2 linked regions of the Homo sapiens genome follow. The protein of the gene in region 2 interacts with the protein of the main gene of each other region in a pairwise test. Each region holds a gene or a part of one and is shown on either strand. Other genes may lie near its edges.

Region 1 (3,816 bases), on a different chromosome or scaffold from region 2:
CTGGAGACCTCCACCTAGGCGCACCTGTGCAGCCGTACACCCTGGCTCCACAGGTGCGCATGGACGTGCTGGCTGTGCACAGCGGTGAGGAGGCCGTGAGTGGTGTGCAGAGCCGTGTGTGTGGACAGCAGGACATGGCGGGTGAGCCAGTCCCTTTCTCACAAAGGAGCTACGATCCAAGACCCCAGTTGTGCGCATGCGGAAGCAGGAACCACCTCCCTCCCCGCGACGCCCGCTCGGGCGAAGGGACGGAGTCAGCTCGGACTCCGCCAGTGCAGAAGGCAAGCCGCAACCTGCCAGGGAGCATGGGCTGCTGGGCCTCAAAGGCTGTCGGGGGGTTGGCAGGGGGTGGGCTCCGTCAGTTTCACAGCTGCACCAGCCTGCAAACCCATCCTTTCCCTCTCACTCCCTCCACCCGTCTGTCTGTCCTTCTGTCCATTAAGTAAAATGCCTCCCCAGGAGACACAGGGATGCTGGCCATGCCAAGGCTGGCTGGCCAGCGTCCCAAGGGCTGGGGACTCAGTAGGAGCCGTGCCCACCCCACCCTGGCCCCGGCTCCTTTGCATGGGTCTCAGGTCTCGCCCTCCCGGCCCAGCCCCTGGGCTTTCACCCCAGCATGATGCCCACTTATACGTAGGCATCTCCCCCAGCAATGCTCCACAGAGCCCCTGGGCCCCCCAAAACCCCAGGAAGAGGTTGGATGCCCCAGGAAGGGAGCTGTTACCACCTAAGCTTCACAGGCCTTCAGAGATTAGAAGTTGAGGTCCAGAGAGGCTGACAACCTGCCTTGGAGCAGCTCCTCACCTGTGCTGCCCCCAGCCCTGTCCATGCCACCTGGGCTCCTTAATGGGAACCCGCTTCTCTTAATGTCTAGGGGAATTCGTCTGAAAACTATCTCAGGTCGCAGGTCCCCCCAGTCCTACAGACATCCACCCAGTGCCAAGGCTGTGAAATAAGCTCAGTCCTGCAGGGCACTGTCCACTAAGTCCTCGAGCTGCTGAGAACTCATGAACCAATGAACTCATGAACCAATCTGCAGGTCACACGGAAGCTGCCACGAGCTTCCTCAATTCCGTGACGCCGCTGTCCCCCAGCCCCCAAAACTGCTTCTTGTCCACTAGGGTCAAAAAAGCAACTATACAAAATAGAAAGGGTCGAAAAACAAAACACAGAGGAAAGAAATTCACCAAAATGCCAAGGAGAGCGCTCGGCCGATCCATCAGACCAGAGCTAATGCTGCTTTCTCCCTTCTCAGTGTTATTTATTTTCCTGTGGAACAAGTATTACATTTATGATGGAAAAAATAACTACTGATTCTAATTTGTTCTTAAAACCCCAGATGAGTAGTCACACGTGGGCTGCTGTTTATTTCCCTGCCTGAACATTTCTGAGGGAGCAGGGAGGGGCAAACAGCGAGTTTGGACCTCGGTGTCAGGTAGTAATTCCATGTTTCTTTCAGCTTCTTGGAATCGATCTTGATTCCCTCTAAAACAATAGAAGTCGCGAGCAACATATTCTGCCAACAAACCGCAGCCACCATTTTTGTTTTTCACTATAGATCAAAGGTCACTGAAAATCAGAACCAAATGGGCTGAACTTTAATTAGCGACAGGTCGGGAAGGGCTGAGCCGCACCCAGGCTGGGAGCTTTCCTGGAGGAACTCCAGGTCTGCCCCTGGCTGAGAACACAAAGCCATCCAGAAAGACGCAGGGGAACGTGCCCTGGGAAGCCTCCTGCCTGGGCAGCCCATGGACTCCCCCGCAGCTCCCAGATCCCTGCCCCAAGACTCTCCGGGCTACCCCAAGGGCCCTCGTCTGGCCCAGGAAAGCAAATGCCGGTGGAAAGCAAAGGCTCTGGGTTTTCTGAAATGCCTTCCCAAGTCTTGACAAAGCCCTTTAGTAACCTCAGTTACTTTAGAACCCAAATGCCTACCTGTGGGGCCCGTGGCTTTCCACAGGGGAACTTCCTCCAACCTGCAGCAGGTGGCTCCTGCCAGCCACAGCTTGGCGGGGACCAGCCCCTGGCTCACACACTCACCTCCACAGGAGCCAGACCCTGGGCACCTTCCTCCAGCCCTAAAGGCCCCATCCTGCACCCACCCCTAAAGGTACCCAAAAGCCACGTCGATCCCACCCACAGTCACCTCTGGACCCATTCCTTAGGGCCTAGAGGCCCCACTGGACCCCAAATTCCGTAAGTCATGCAGCCGATTCAGAACAGCGGCTGCCCCCAAAGCACCAGGCCTGCATGAGCCCCTTGCCAGGCACTCGGAATTGGCCTCCCAACTGCTGCCATCTCCCAGGGTCCCGGAAGAATCTAGATCGCAGGTCTGGGTAGCTGAGGCAGCTCCTAGCCACCTCCCACAGCCCTGCAGTGCTGGACCTGCCACCCCCACCTGGTGGTGTCACCCCTACTAGCTAGCACAGCAGCACTCCAATGCATTGTACTAACGGAACAGACCACCTTCTTTATTCACCAATATTTTACACTAAACATCAGCATATAGAACAAAGAGACACTGCTCAGTTTAAGGAGGCTGTAGGCCTCTACACCCCCACAAATCAACCATTCCTCTGCACCAATCCTGACCACAGTCACCTCTGAGAACCTCCAGGGAACCCTAGGGTTCCATGGGGGCATAGTTTGAGAAACACCAGTGTAGGCCTCAAACTGGGCCTAGCCCAAGGCCTTGAGCGACAGCAGGACTGAACAGACTGGGCTCACAAACACCTTCTGGGCACCAAGAAGGGCCCCCCGCCCCCTCGCCCTCCTACCTGGAAGCCGCGATCTCAGCCTTCTGCTTGGCGATGGTGGCGGCCCGCTCAGCGGCCTCAACGGCGCGGTCCACCTTCTCGCGGATCTTGCTGGCCCGCAGGGGGATGAGGTTCTTGCGCTTGCCGCCGACGAGGATGTTCTGCTTGTACTTGCCCTCCTCCTTGGTGCCGTCCGGGAAGGTCATGCAGCCGTAGCCATGGCGCCGGTTGCTGGCCCACTCGCCCTCGTACTTGAGCCCGTCCGAGCGCTGGCTCACGCCGAAGCCGGAGCGTTTGTCGTTCTTCCACTCGCCCACGTAGGTCTCGGTGGTGGTGGCGTCGATGTCGTCCTCGATGACCGCCAGCTCGGCCTCAGCCTCGCCCAGGCTGATGGTGGAGTGGATGTCGCTGGCCGTGGAGCTGACGGTGCTCATGCCCGCCTCGCTGCGAAAGGAGCTCTGCTTGCTGCGTTGGCTGGCCAGGCTGCTCTTGGACTCCGACTTGCGCAGCTTCAGCCCACTCAGCAGCGAGCGCCGAAACAGCCCCTTCTTCTTGCTCTTGAGGATCTCGGAGTCACTGTGGGCCACGAGCACGAAGCCCCCGCGGGACACGGCCGGGCTGCCGGCCACCGCCGGAGAGGCGTCGGGATGCAGCGCCGTGCCGTTGGTGTGCTCGCTGCGCAGGGAGTTGATGGACGTCCTCAGGGGTGAGCGGATGACCGCGGCCATGCCATACGGGACGCTCTGCCGGACGCCGTAGCCCTGGCGCATGCCACCGACCCACTGGCCCTGGTAGGTCCCTGGGGAGAAAATGAGAGAGGGGTGAGTGCCCAGCGACAGAGGAGGGGGCACAGCCTGGCCACGGACAGGGTTGAAGCAGCCACAGTCCTGTCTGAGCTTCCTGTTGTTTTGTGTTTTTTGAGACAGGTTCTCGCTGTGTTGCCCAGGCTGGAGTGCAGTGAGACCATCACAGCTCACGACAGCCAGGAACCCCTGGGCTCAGGCGATCCTCCTGCCTCAGCCTCCTGCGCAGCTGGGACTACAGGCGTGCACCACCATGCTCC
Region 2 (3,816 bases):
TTTGTTTCATAACTTGAATGATGGGTACCCAGATGTATATTTTACTTTAATTTGTACATTCATATTTTATGCAGTTTCTATGTCTAATACGTATAAAAATTTCAGATTAAATGAAATACATGAAGGCACTGGCACCCTGCCTTTCAAATTGTAAAAGGTGTAAATTTTGCAAAATGCCTAAAGGGGCAGGTGAGGTCACAATGAGAATCTACACTATTGTACTTCGGGGTTCAACCCAAACAGAAGTTAACAGGAGAACTTAAATTATGTAGCGCATGATTTTTAATTGAGTATGGTACTGTAATTTTAATCCACATTTTCTGCTAGTTAACTATAAAATAACCCTTAAAACTGATCTAAAAGCCTATTTTAAAAATATAAGTTGCGGCCGGGCACGGTGGCTCACGCCTGTAATCCCAGCACTTTGGGAGGCCAAGGTGGGTGGATCACAAGGTGAGGAGATCAAGACCATCCCGGCCAACATGGTGAAACCCCGTCTCTACTGAAATACAAAAAAAAAAAAAAAAAAAATTAGCCAGGCGTGGTGGCGCGCACACGTAGTCCCAGCTTACTGGGGAGACTGAGGCAGGGGAATTGCTTGAACCAGGGAGGTGGAGGTTGCAGTGAGCTGAGATGGCACCACTGCACTCCAGCTTGGGGACAGAGCAAGAATCCATCTCAAAAAAAAAAAAGTTGCTTCCTGCTTGCCTATCAGAGTAATTCAGTCCAAAAGTCATTACGTGGGGCTGAGCAAGGCAGGCATCTGGGGAAGGTGGGGGCGAGAGAAAGGCTGGCAAGGTAGTAGCCCAGCAGGGGATACTGGAGCCCAAATGCAGTGAGGAGGGCCTCTGGGGGTAGGGACTTGTGCACAGCAGCAGCCTAGCAGGGGATGAGGAGGGCATCCTATTAGGGTGAAGGAAATGGTGGCACAGGTTTTTGGAATGGGAACAAAAGGTGAGCCTTACCCAGGAGGGAGGAAATGGTGCAGTGTAAGTTGCTTGAGCCCAAGAAGGGTAGGTTGGGGGAAAGGGGGAAGAGAAGACCATGCATGTGGGATGGTGGCAGTGGCACTCTGGCATTAGGTGGCAGAGCTCAGAGAGTAGAGTGTGTGCGCCGAATGGTGACAGCAAGAGGATTTTGATTACATAGTGAGAGAAGGGGTGATGATTATAAAAAGTAAATTTATTAAGGACAAGTGGGAACCAGACTTCTCACTGTTCAGCAAGAGTATTAAACCCATGTAAAGAGGGGAAATGAAAATAAACCCTGTAGTATTGGAATTGAATGTTAGGTAGCAGATTATATGGAGATTAATATAAAAGTCATACACACATACAACACCTAAATCCGTATGTATATACACTTGCAGCTTTGTCACTTAGAGGACCTGGGAACAGTGACAGTCCCATGGTGATTAGCATTTTTAGCACCCAGACCTTGGTTTCTAAAGCATTCCATCCAGATTATAGTTTCTAAATGCTATTCTCCATTAAAAGGACTAGGTTCCTTGGAGAAATAATTTTACAATGGACAATCTTAGCAAATACATTAATTGGGTAATCAAAGTTATCAATCACAATGGAACAAATTGCAGTTGCATCCACCTGATAGGATGCAATGTTAAGAGCTTACTATTCAACTCTAACAGGTAGTGGGAATTATTTTCTAGGTTTAGACTGTCATGATGCCTTTAAGTTTGGAGCCTCCTCTACAAAGTAGAGTTAACACATTACACATAAAGAAGCATGATTTTGCCTGTTCCTCAGGGACACCCTCTTACAGGTTGTTCATTTGGCCTCTTCACCACCAATCTTACTGCCCATCTACTATTCCAACCTGCTTAACTCACCCAGTTTCTGCTAGTTTTCAGCCTCCCTTTGGATAAGCACCCATCAGCATTTGATCAGGCTTCTGCTCAATGTCCTTCAAGTGGCTCTGGCCTTGCCTTGAGAGCAGGGTAAAGATAATCTCTTGTTTGTTGATAAGGAAAACTCAGGCTCAGCAAGGTTAATTAATCTGTACATTATGCAACTGGAATTTAAATCTAGTTTAACTCATTCCACTGTGGCATAAAAGGAGGTACACGTACCTATCTGTGATGACAATCCACTTTCTCATTTCCTTCATGTGACTTCTCACAATCACAATTGTCTTTGCTTATGTCTCCCATAGGAAAACGTCAATTATGACAGCAGGTAATTTTATCGGAAGTGTTTATAACTATATCCCAGTACGTGGAACGAAAAAGTTATCAAGAAATATTTATTGAATGTAAAAAAGGTTACCATTTTCTCAATGTGTATAACCTTTTTTTATTTTTTTAAGACTACAATGCAGCTAATTGCAAAAAAATTTTCCTTTCTTTAGGTATGTTATGCATAAAAGTGGATAATTTACATGATAAATGAAAATGGCCAATTCTTTAAGAGGAGAAGTACTAAAACTTTATAAAAATGTAAGTAATTATGTTGCCAATTTTATAAAAATGTTATTATATGACATGGATTGTTTAGAAATATATAATCTTTCTTTTTGAAGCTGCTGTATCTTGGACGAGACTATCCAAAAGGAGCAGACTATTTTAAAAAGCGTTTGAAGAACATTTTCCTTAAAAACAAAGATGTGAAGAATCCAGAGAAGATCAAAGAACTTATTGCACAGGGCGAATTTGTAATGAAAGAGCTAGAAGCTTTGTACTTCCTTAGGAAATACAGAGCTATGAAACAACGCTATTATTCAGATACCAACAAAACTAATTGATCATTACTACTTTAATTTAGCTATCAGTGCCAGCTGTTTATGTATACCAGATGTTGTAAAATAATTCTAACTTAAAATGGGAAGATATACATGTTGTGTAAAAAATCCCTGAGCTGCCCTACTGAACTAAATAGGTTTCAACTTCTGTTCATACGGAGAAAGTATCAGCAACTTTATGCTCAATTTTGATACAAACATAGCAATTTAGCTATACTACCGATCATAAATTAATGAGCACCCAATTTTGAATGAAAATATAATACACTTAATCCTCTAACTTAATAGGACTTAGCCAATTATTTTTAGCTTATTTCTCCATTTTACTGACAAGAGAATGCCATTTACCGAACATTTAATAAGCAAAATAATTTCTTACACACTTACTTCTCTTAACTTTTGAAAGGAATCCCTTATTTTTTCACCCAATTTGGTATATTAACAGCACATACTCAAGGTTCACTACAAAACAAACAGTTCCTGGTAATGATTTAAATGTAGTTATAGAAATAAATAATATGTATGGAGTCATTACTTCTGACCTTGAAATAGCCTGCTGGTGACTGGCATTAACATACATAACTAACTATTCAATTATTTCCATTATTAATGTTGCTGCTGCTACCTTTGGGCCTAAAACCAAGTCACCTGTTGTGTATCAATTACCTTCTTTGATAAAAGGAAATAAATAAATAATGTTATCCTATTTTTTTGTCATAAAGGCAGATTTGTTTTGCATCTACTTCTAAATATGGTTTTAAGTTTAAGCAAACACGCCTTTACATAATATCCACAGCACCTTTTAGAAATAAAGGATACTTCTAACAAGCTGCATAAAAGATTCACTGGTATACTATAGTGTCTATGGCTTATAAAGTATTCCATATCCATTTCGGGGCAAACAGTTCAAATTTCATGAATAAATACACACTCATAGTCACTGTAACTATTTTTATTACATTACAATAATTAGGAGTAGTACAGTTCATGACAAAAATATTACAAATTTTAGATCACTTCACAGCACATACTCCTATAAACATTTAAAAGTTAATTTCA

Evidence for each region.
Region 1: the proteins of ETFRF1 (region 2) and JPH3 interact in binary tests that used the Homo sapiens proteins (3 or more experiments, as listed by UniProt).

What each region holds. Positions count from the first base shown.
Region 1 is NC_000016.10:87,643,994-87,647,809, reverse strand, and holds part of JPH3 (junctophilin-3), read right to left. Parts: intron 3,553-3,816; coding exon 2,775-3,552; intron 1-2,774. UniProt on the Homo sapiens protein: Junctophilins contribute to the formation of junctional membrane complexes (JMCs) which link the plasma membrane with the endoplasmic or sarcoplasmic reticulum in excitable cells.
Region 2 is NC_000012.12:25,201,553-25,205,368, forward strand, and holds the end of ETFRF1 (electron transfer flavoprotein regulatory factor 1), read left to right. Parts: exon of another isoform or gene 1-2,280; intron 2,281-2,367; 5' UTR 2,368-2,404; coding exon 2,405-2,455; intron 2,456-2,538; coding exon 2,539-2,760; 3' UTR 2,761-3,591; downstream 3,592-3,816. UniProt on the Homo sapiens protein: Acts as a regulator of the electron transfer flavoprotein by promoting the removal of flavin from the ETF holoenzyme (composed of ETFA and ETFB).